2 separate regions of the Homo sapiens genome follow, and region 1 is linked to region 2. The links come from fine-mapping of genetic effects on gene expression. A gene starts in region 2. The other region holds a variant in brackets. All regions are shown on one strand. Distances are from middle to middle.

Region 1 (4,331 bases), 22 kb before region 2:
GAGCACCCACCCACCCCCGGGACTGGACTAGTGCCCGGTCACCGCCCGCGCGTGCCGTACCATGCTCCTCCGCGGAGGCAGGAGTTTGCTGAGCTCTTCCTTCCTCTTCCTCATCCTCTGGGCTCGCTCTCTCCACTCCTGCAGTGCCCTTTTCTCTCTGGAGAAAGGGAAGGTTAATGTCATAAGTTACAGGCAGCTTCGAGCCAAGGCTACAGGATTCCTCTGTCATTCTACAGCCTTGCGGTGCACCTGTCTCCAGGGGGCACAGGCTGGGGGCGTGCATGCCCTCCGGGTGGGAGTCTGAACCACAGCCTCTTCCTCCCGGCACATCTGGGCAGAGCCGGGAATGCCGGGTTCTATCCCGAGGCTCTGTGTGTCGGTGCTGCCAGCAGTGACTGATGCTGGGGGCCAACCCGACCCAGTGACCGAGGAAAAGGCATCAGGACCCCTTTCAGGTAAGGGCACCAGCTGGGGCTGCCACCACAGGCGCTGCACGACGGGTTGGGGGTGCCTGGCTGCGGGCACTTGTCGACATAAGGTCTATGGAAGATCTGAATGCCTGTCTCTAAGTCCCTCCCTTCAGACACTTGAATTTCACTTTTAAAAACAGGCATCTGGCCAAGGCGGGCGGATCACGAGGTCAGGAGATCGAGACCATCCTGGCTAACGCAGTGAAACCCCATCTCTACTAAAAATACAAAAAATTAGCCGGGTGTAGTGGTGGGCGCCTCTAGTTCCAGCTACTCGGGAGGCTGAGGCAGGAGAATTGCTTGAACCCAGGAGGCAGAGGTTGCAGTGAGCCAAGATTGAGCCACTGCACTCCAGCCTGGGTGACGGAGCAAGACTGTCTCAAAAAACAAAACAAAACAAGACAAGAACAGGCGTCTTCGGGCCTCCGCAGTCTGCAGCCAGAGTCACATGCTCCCTCCTCACAGCTCGCCGCCCAGGGCTGCGAACGTCCCGAGTAACGCCCACATCTGCGGCTGGGCGGGGCTCCTCGCGTGTGGCTGGGGTGGAATGAGGTCCCCAAGAGCCCTTGCTCAGGCCCAGGGCTCCACCCCCGGAAGGCCAGCTCTCCAGCCTGCAGGACTCCTGTGGTTGGTACCCCCTCTCCATCCTGCCCCCAGATCCGGCCTCCTCTTGTTTCTCCCATCATCATCCTGGACGCCTGGGCCCCAGGCCGGGTTTTCCTCGACGCCTCCACCCGACCTCTGCTCTCCTTCCTTGCGGTCACAGCGGCTCAGCCCTCCTGGGCTCTACCCGGCCCACGGCCCACCTCTGACCACCTTCCTGCTGAGGGCTCCATCCCGAGTCAGTGCTGCCTGGGATCAGAGCCTGGCTGCGTCCTCTCCCAGTGCCACCTCAGGGCACAGGTGGTCTCAGCAGCTGCCTCAGGTGAGGCTGTGTCCTGACGCCTGCCTGGGTGTGTCCCAGCCCCCAGCCCCCAGCCCCAGCCAGGGTGGTGCCCCCCGTGTCCCCACTTAGCACCATGTGTGGTGCTGGCCCCGCTGCGCTCCTGGACGAGGGCCTCCACTTAGTGTCACTGTCTTCTGGTCACACCTTGGGAAGCAAAGGGGTGACGCTGTCCACAGGGTGATGTGAAGGGGGCTGTGCCGGGTCTGGGCCCTCAGAATAGGCCTGCCGAGCTGCTCACTAGGAGACTGCAGGACACTGGCTCTGGGCTCCAGGCAGGAAAATAAAGAAGAAAGAGTTCACTTGCTCTTTGTATCCAAGAACTTCTCTTCCATGAAGGTGTGGGACGAGGCCCGAGCCTGTTGTCTGGGGGTAAGAGTGCCCTTTCTGCCCCCTGCAGCTGGTGGTGCCCAGAGAGCCTGGGGCAGGGGCTGTGCCTGCGGAAGGTCTCATCACAATCACCTCCATCACAGCCATGGCCAAGAGGGAGTGGGACTCCCACAGGCAGCCTCCTGGCAGGGCAGGTGATACCTGA[G/T]GAGTCAAGGGGGCAGGTGTCTGGACACCCACTTCAGAAAACGGTACCTTGAAACTGGCAGAGCCGAGGCAGGAGTGGGACCCACCTGCAGCAGGGAAGGGAAGGGAGATGCCTGCTGAGGCACACAGTGAGGGGAGGGCAGCTGGCATGCTTGACAGGCGGGGCCGGTCCTGGGGGGCTCACCTCGCAGTGAGTGACGGGCCCGGCTCTGTAGAGCTACCCCGAGGGACAGTGTGGGGCGACTGATGGGCACCAAAGGAAAGCCTTCCCGGTGCTCCCTGGGCCCCAGCAGCTGTGGCCCGTGGCCAGCAAGACCTGGTCCCACAGCGATGGGCTTTCTGGTGCAGCCCGGACCACACTCCCATGTCCTAGGACAGCCCTAGAGCGGTCAGTCAGCCTCATCCTTGCCCGTCAGTATGACAGCCTGGGACAGGGGACCAGTTCTGAGGACTTCACCTCATTCATCTTTTTAATGAAAAAGACAACCAACTACAATGTCTCTCTGGACATTGGGTGACAGCTGTGGACAATCACAGAATCTGTGTGCTGGACACAGCCCCTATCACATGGTCCCGAGAGAAAACAGCACACACACAACGGGGTGGCTTCAGGAGGGTTTATTCATGTTGGGGAGGGAGCAGGTGAGCCACAGGGGCGGTGCAAGAGCCCTGTGCCAGTCAGGGCCGGGCTGCAGCCGCCCACAGGACAGACCAGGGAAGGAGAGATTGTCGGAACCCAGAAGGAGGGAGAGGCTGGACTCGGCCAGCTCCAGGCAGCTCACAAAGAAGCCGGGAAAGTAAAGACGAGGCCCTCGCTCTCCCTTCCTCCTCGACCTCCTGCTGGGGGCCCCCGCTGGCCAAAGCCAACCACCAAGTGAGGGGCACGGGGGTGCTGTGGCTGTGGTCCATGCCAGCCGGACTCCTGGGGCCCAGGGAGGGGTGAAGCCAGGTGGTCAGTGGAGCTGGAGGACAGAGAAGACACTGAGGACACCGAGTCCATCGGCCAACACACCTCGCAAGGTGGTGGCACTGGCGGCAGTCACAGCAACACAAGAATGAACCTCCCTGATGACCGTGTCAGGGCCTGGAATACTCTAGGGAAAATGAGGAGGAAAGGACTGAGGAAGAACAAGAAATGAGGGAAAAGAACAAGAAAGCAGGCAGGTGTCGTGAGGAAGCCAGGGCAAAGACGGACACAAGGGGGCGACCGCGAGCACTGCAACCGGCCTGTCCCACAGGGAGGCCTCGGGGCTGCAAACAAGGGAGCCCATGCACGCAACGCCCTGCAGACCACGAGCGCTGCACCTGCCCCACATGGAGGCCTCAGCGCCTGCCCCACACGGAGGCCTCAGCGCCTGCCCCACACGGAGCGCTGCACCTGCGCCTGCCCCACACGGAGGCCTCAGCGCCTGCCCCACACGGAGGCCTCAGCGCCTGCCCCACACGGAGGCCTCAGCATCTGCCCCACACGGAGCGCTGCACCTGCGCCTGCCCCACACGGAGGCCTCAGCGCCTGCCCCACACGGAGGCCTCAGCGCCTGCCCCACACGGAGCGCTGCACCTGCGCCTGCCCCACACGGAGGCCTCGGGGCTACAAACAAGGGAGCCCATGCACGCAACGCCCTGCAGACCACGAGCGCTGCACCTGCCCCACACGGAGGCCTCAGCGCCTGCCCCACACGGAGCGCTGCACCTGCGCCTGCCCCACCCGGAGGCCTCGGGGCTACAAACAAGGGAGCCCATGCACGCAACGCCCTGCAGACCACGAGCGCTGCACCTGCCCCACACGGAGGCCTCAGCGCCTGCCCCACACGGAGGCCTCAGCGCCTGCCCCACACGGAGGCCTCAGCGCCTGCCCCACACGGAGGCCTCAGCGCCTGCCCCACACGGAGGCCTCAGCATCTGCCCCACACGGAGCGCTGCACCTGCGCCTGCCCCACACGGAGGCCTCAGCGCCTGCCCCACACGGAGGCCTCAGCGCCTGCCCCACACGGAGCGCTGCACCTGCGCCTGCCCCACACGGAGGCCTCAGGGCTGCAAACAAGCGAGCCCGTGCGTGGCGCTACAGACCACAAGGGGCACGTGCAGCTCGGCTTCCAGGTGAGGAAGAGACGGATCCTGGATCAGCATCAGTGAGGGGAGAACTAACTAAACACTTCCACGAGGCCTGCCATAAAATCACAGCCCAGTCCCAGTTCCGGGTGCACTGGGCGGGCTGTGCGGACCCCCACCCTGTGTGGACTCACCGTCTCTGCTGCTCCATCAGAGCCTGCTTCTCCTGGAGCTCTCGGAGCGCCGCCGCTCGGCTCTCTTCCAGTCTTTTTGCTCGGATCGCCATTTGGTACGGTGACAAGAGGTCGGGTAAGATGCTCCTGGAGGAGGCT
Region 2 (4,379 bases):
CATGGACAAGACAGCATCTACTGCGGACTGACCCGGAGAAGGGCCGGGCACAAAGTAAAACCAGTGTGTAACATGAGCAAAATCATGGGTGAGAACAAAGTTTTTAACTGCTCATGTTGCCTGATTTTCTTTAAGGTTTTGTGTTTTAATTAAGAGACCAAGCGTGTTTGGCAGTAGTTTCTACCACAGGTTTTGAGAGATGAACTGCAAGGAAGAGAACAGACACCTTCATCTAAATAGATGTACTATTTCCATTGGTTGGTCCCCATCATGAATTTCCCATTTTGTTGTGATTGGCGTATGAAACTATGAGTTAACCTTTCCTCTATTTAATTTTAGAATTCATCAATTCCAAAGAGAAAGAAGCCTACAAATAAAGCCCAGGGGTACATTCCCATTTCTGTCTATAGGGGACCTGTGGGCACACAGCCTGAGGAGCAGCCCCACTTACTTGAAGGCTGGGGATTCTAAAGACCTCCTCCAAACGGCACAGACCACTTTCACTCAAGTCTAAAATCGGTGAGGAGGAAAAGATGATGCCTCCAACACCCTTGTGAACATCTTTGGAGGGGGTGGCAGGCAAGCTCCTAGTCTGACCAGCACCCTCCTCCAGATCAGCAGCAGCCACAGAGGGAACTTCGTAGGAGCTGCTTCCCTCCATCCGTTCTCTTCCAGGGACAGCAGCTCATCCTCCTTGGTCTGGAGTCACCTGGAGACACGGGAAAGGGAAACGTAGAAGCAACTAATTATACCGAGGCAAAACAGAATAGCTGTGTGGCAGATCTACTGTAATGTAACTTGCTTTAAAAGCTATCATTTTTCCTAAGCAGTAGCAAAAATTTGACTTTTAAACATGTAAAAAAAAAAAAAAGGAATACAAAGAGGTTCAGATTAAAATTCTCTGCTCTCACTTTGTACAATGGAGTTCCAAGATTTAACTCCTGGAAAACGCAAAGGCGCACAATAGTAATGATCATTTTAGGGATGTAAACAGATCGGAACATTTCAAAGCCTGTAAATCAACTGCAACGCTTCCATGAAATGACTAGGGGCGGGTGGAAATTTGCACTGTTTCTTACCTCTGGTGTGGTTCTGTGCCATTTGAACTATGTTTTTAGTTTCTTGAGGCCAGGAAGCCTGTCTTTTGTTTACCATTTTGACCCAGTGACCAGAACTAAGTCTGGCTTACACCCAGTTAAGCACCGGGGAAAAACCTGTTAAATTAATCTCGAATTTTCGTTGTCCAGCAACACTTTTACTCAGAAGTATTGTTCACCAAAATCTCATTCAGCGAGGCACACTTCCACTTGCAATTTCCAAACAATTTATTCGGCAATAAGAATCAACGTTGGAATGCATCAGTTCACCTAATTCAAGTCACTCAACAGCCCAATGATTGGCATATGAGGCGCAGATCAGTTAGGGAACTGTTCCAGGGGCGCAGTTAATTGGGGGGTAGAGGCGACACCGGGACCCAGCAGGGTTCAACCCCAGGCAGCCTGCATTCCATGGAAGCCCGCGGGCTTTTTCACGGTCAGTTCACTTGTTTTCTCCGAATCACGGAACTTAAAACAGAGGAGGGGAGGCTTCAAACCTCAGAACAGGGAAAGTATCTTAAAACCAGAAGTGAAACAACAGCCTGGACTCACACAGGGCCCAGGCAGCGCAGGCTCCGTGGGGTTTCCGAGGCTGCCTTCAAGGGATCCCCACGCACGCCCACCCCCGCTCCCTGCCTCGATTTCCCCATCCGGGCGAGGCTGAGTTGGGTCCGACGCTCTGGGCCTCACATTCCAGGCCTCAGAAGGGCAGCCTTTGCGGTCAGCATCGCGGCTGGAGCTAGGCGACAGGGCACGACGGGCCGAGGCACCACCTTCCTGCCGCCGCCCGCCTCGAGGGCTCAGCGAGCTGGCCGTACCCGCCCCGTCTCACCTGCCGCGTCCCCGCCCACTGAAGCGCTGGCGAGCCCCGCCGCTGAGAGCAGCAGCCCGACAATGGAGGCCACCCAGCCAACGCGGTCGCCATGGAGACGCCGGTACGGAATCCCGCAGGCGCCACGCTGAGCGCGAGTGTGTCTGTGATGCGCCTGCGCGAGGGGTGTGGTGCGCCTGCGCGCGGGGGTGTGCGTGTTGTGGGGGTTTGTGCCTGCGTGCGGGGGCGGGGTGTGGGTGCCCCTGCGCGGCAGGGGGTCGGGTGTGGTGCGCCTGCCCGGGAGGGGGCGGGGTGTGGTGCGCCTGCGCTGGGGCGGGGGGTTGCGCTTGCGGTGGGGGGGTTGTGGTGCGCCTGCGCGGGGGTGGCAGGGGGTGGTGCGCCTGCGCACGCACGCGGCCAACGGTAGCATCCGTTTTTCCGCGCCCGCGGCCTTGAAGGGGTGGTGGTCGACGGGCAAGTAGAGACCGCGAGGGTCTGGAGGGGCGACCGGCCTGGCACAGAGGGGAAGGAAGAGAGCGGGATGCTAAGTGCCGTCTGGGGAGCCGGAGGGCCCGGGGCGGGCGGGGCTGCTCGAGGACAGCCGAGCAGAAAAGAATTGCTGCTGAGGCACCACCTTTGGAGCGGTCCTCGCTGCCTGTCCTTCCCGCTGGGCTCACTCCCCGCGTCTCTCCTGGGGCTTCCTGGAGCCACTTCCCACAGGAGCTGCTTGTCCCCAAATCTTGCCTCAGGACTTGCTGCCAGGGGAACGCAGACTCAGAGCGTCCTCTTTGGAGAAGTAAGGCTGCCTCTGGACGGAGGAGTGAGGGGGGCGAGGAAACGCAGTGAGTGTCCTGAGGAAGGGTTTTGAGAATTTGGAAGAAGATGAAATGACACCGGGCGGGAGGGGAGGTGCTCGCGTGGTCCTGTGGAACCCTGGAGTCCCGTGCACCTTCATTCCAGGATCCAACTGATAATGAAAAGTAGCACCCTCTGTCCCACCCAGAAACACTCTGGAAACCCGGACAGTTTAGCTGGAGTCTGCCATGATTTCACTTTTTTTTTTTTTTTTTTTTTTTTGAGGTGGAGTCTTGCTTTGTCTCCCAGGCTGGAGTGCAGTAGCGCGATCTCGGCCCACTGCGACCTCCGCCTCCCAGGTTCAAGCAATTCTCCTGCCTCAGCCTCCCCAGTAGCTGGGACTACAGGCGCGCGCCACCACGTCCAGCTAATTTTTGTATTTTTAGTAGAGACGGGGTTTCATCATGTTGGCCAGGCTGGTCTCGATCTCCTGACCTCATGATCCGCCCCCCTCGGCCTCCCAAAGTGCTGGGATTACAGGCATGAGCCACCGTGCCCGGCCTGATTCCACTTTTTAAAGGAAACGACATAATTATGTGGAGAAACGACTATCCACTTTGAGGGGATTTACGTTTTATTTTTGTGAAGAGATCACAGTAAGAAATGTTTTTTAGGCCGGACACGATGGCTCACGCCTGTAACCCTAGCACTTTGGGAGGCCAGGGTGGGAAGATCGCTTGAGGCCAGGAGTTGGAGACCAGCCTGGGCAACCCAGTCTCTACAAAAATTAAAAAAAAAAAAAAAAAAAAATGCTGGGTGTGGTGGCACACACCTGTAGTTCCAGCTGTGTGGGAGGGTGAGGCAAGAGGATCGCTTGAACCTAGGATTTTGAGGCTGCAGTGAGTTATGATTGTGCCACTTAATGTCAGCTTCGGTGACAGCGAGACCCTGTCTCAAAAAAAAAGTTTTCGTACATACCCAACTATCTACCAATCAGGAAGCTGAAAGCACAACCAGTACCTTCTCAGGAGCGTGGGGAGGCCAGCCACCCGGGCAGAGCAAGGAGAGAATGAGGAGTGACATGGGTGTTGCCGTGAGTGGCGAAGGGGATGGAAGATTTCAGCACGATGCTATTTCTAACAAGTTTCAGCATTCCAGTATCTCTTTTCACAAATAAAACATTTACTAACCATTTGAGCGTATTCCCTCTTGCTTGTTATTGTTGCCTCAGGTTTTTGTTTCACATTTTTCATGCTACATTAATTTTTGTAGTCAGTAGTTAATTGTATGTACGAGCATGTTTTGCCCTTTACTGTGCTCAGTTTTTGCCCAGCCAGATTGTATCCATTGGTAGCCTTTTGGCAAGTATTCTTGGGTGAGCCTCCCAACGTAGGAACGAATGAAGTGTTCGTGTTGATCTGATTATTGAGTGGCTGTGGAGCTGGTGCCGCGTTCCTTGTTGAGTCATTTCCTGTCTTGATTTTAGGACCTTCCTCCGGGCAGCGACTGCTGCTACCCTGCCGAGAAGTTTGCTGCCCGTGGCATTGCTACTTCCATGAAGGAAATCTATCTTCTCTTTTCATGTCTTTGTTCTGAAATTTCGCTGTGGTATTTCTGAGTATAAGTTGGTTTGGCTGTGTTGCCTGGCGCTGGCCGTGTCTTCTCACCTGAGATAG

Direction of the effects. Positions count from the first base shown, and alleles are read on the strand shown. Sizes are in standard deviations (SD) of each study's normalised expression.
For the expression in whole blood of the gene that starts at base 1,993 in region 2, allele T in region 1 goes with a higher level than allele G (large effect, 0.88 SD a copy in Lepik 2017).

What was found. PIP is the estimated chance that this variant, and not a neighbour inherited with it, causes the effect. A credible set is the group of variants that fine-mapping cannot tell apart.
Region 1: its variant is the best candidate, but not a certain one, in a credible set for the expression of LRRC27 in whole blood (Lepik 2017, PIP 0.58).

Annotation. Positions count from the first base shown.
Region 1 is chr10:132,351,616-132,355,946 of GRCh38, reverse strand. LRRC27 (leucine rich repeat containing 27) reads right to left here. Exons shown (of 11, transcript NM_030626.3): 7 at 4,194-4,331; 8 at 61-157. Among named protein-coding and RNA genes, the nearest start is that of LRRC27, 22 kb to the right of the region's middle. RefSeq lists an enhancer at 2,302-3,264. The variant G/T (reference allele first, on the strand shown) is at 1,949.
Region 2 is chr10:132,329,807-132,334,185 of GRCh38, reverse strand. LRRC27 (leucine rich repeat containing 27) reads right to left here and starts at 1,993. Exons shown (of 11, transcript NM_030626.3): 1 at 1,930-1,993; 2 at 452-709. The coding sequence starts at 661. It also overlaps a transcript of STK32C not described here. RefSeq lists a silencer at 2,172-2,291 and an enhancer at 2,176-2,710.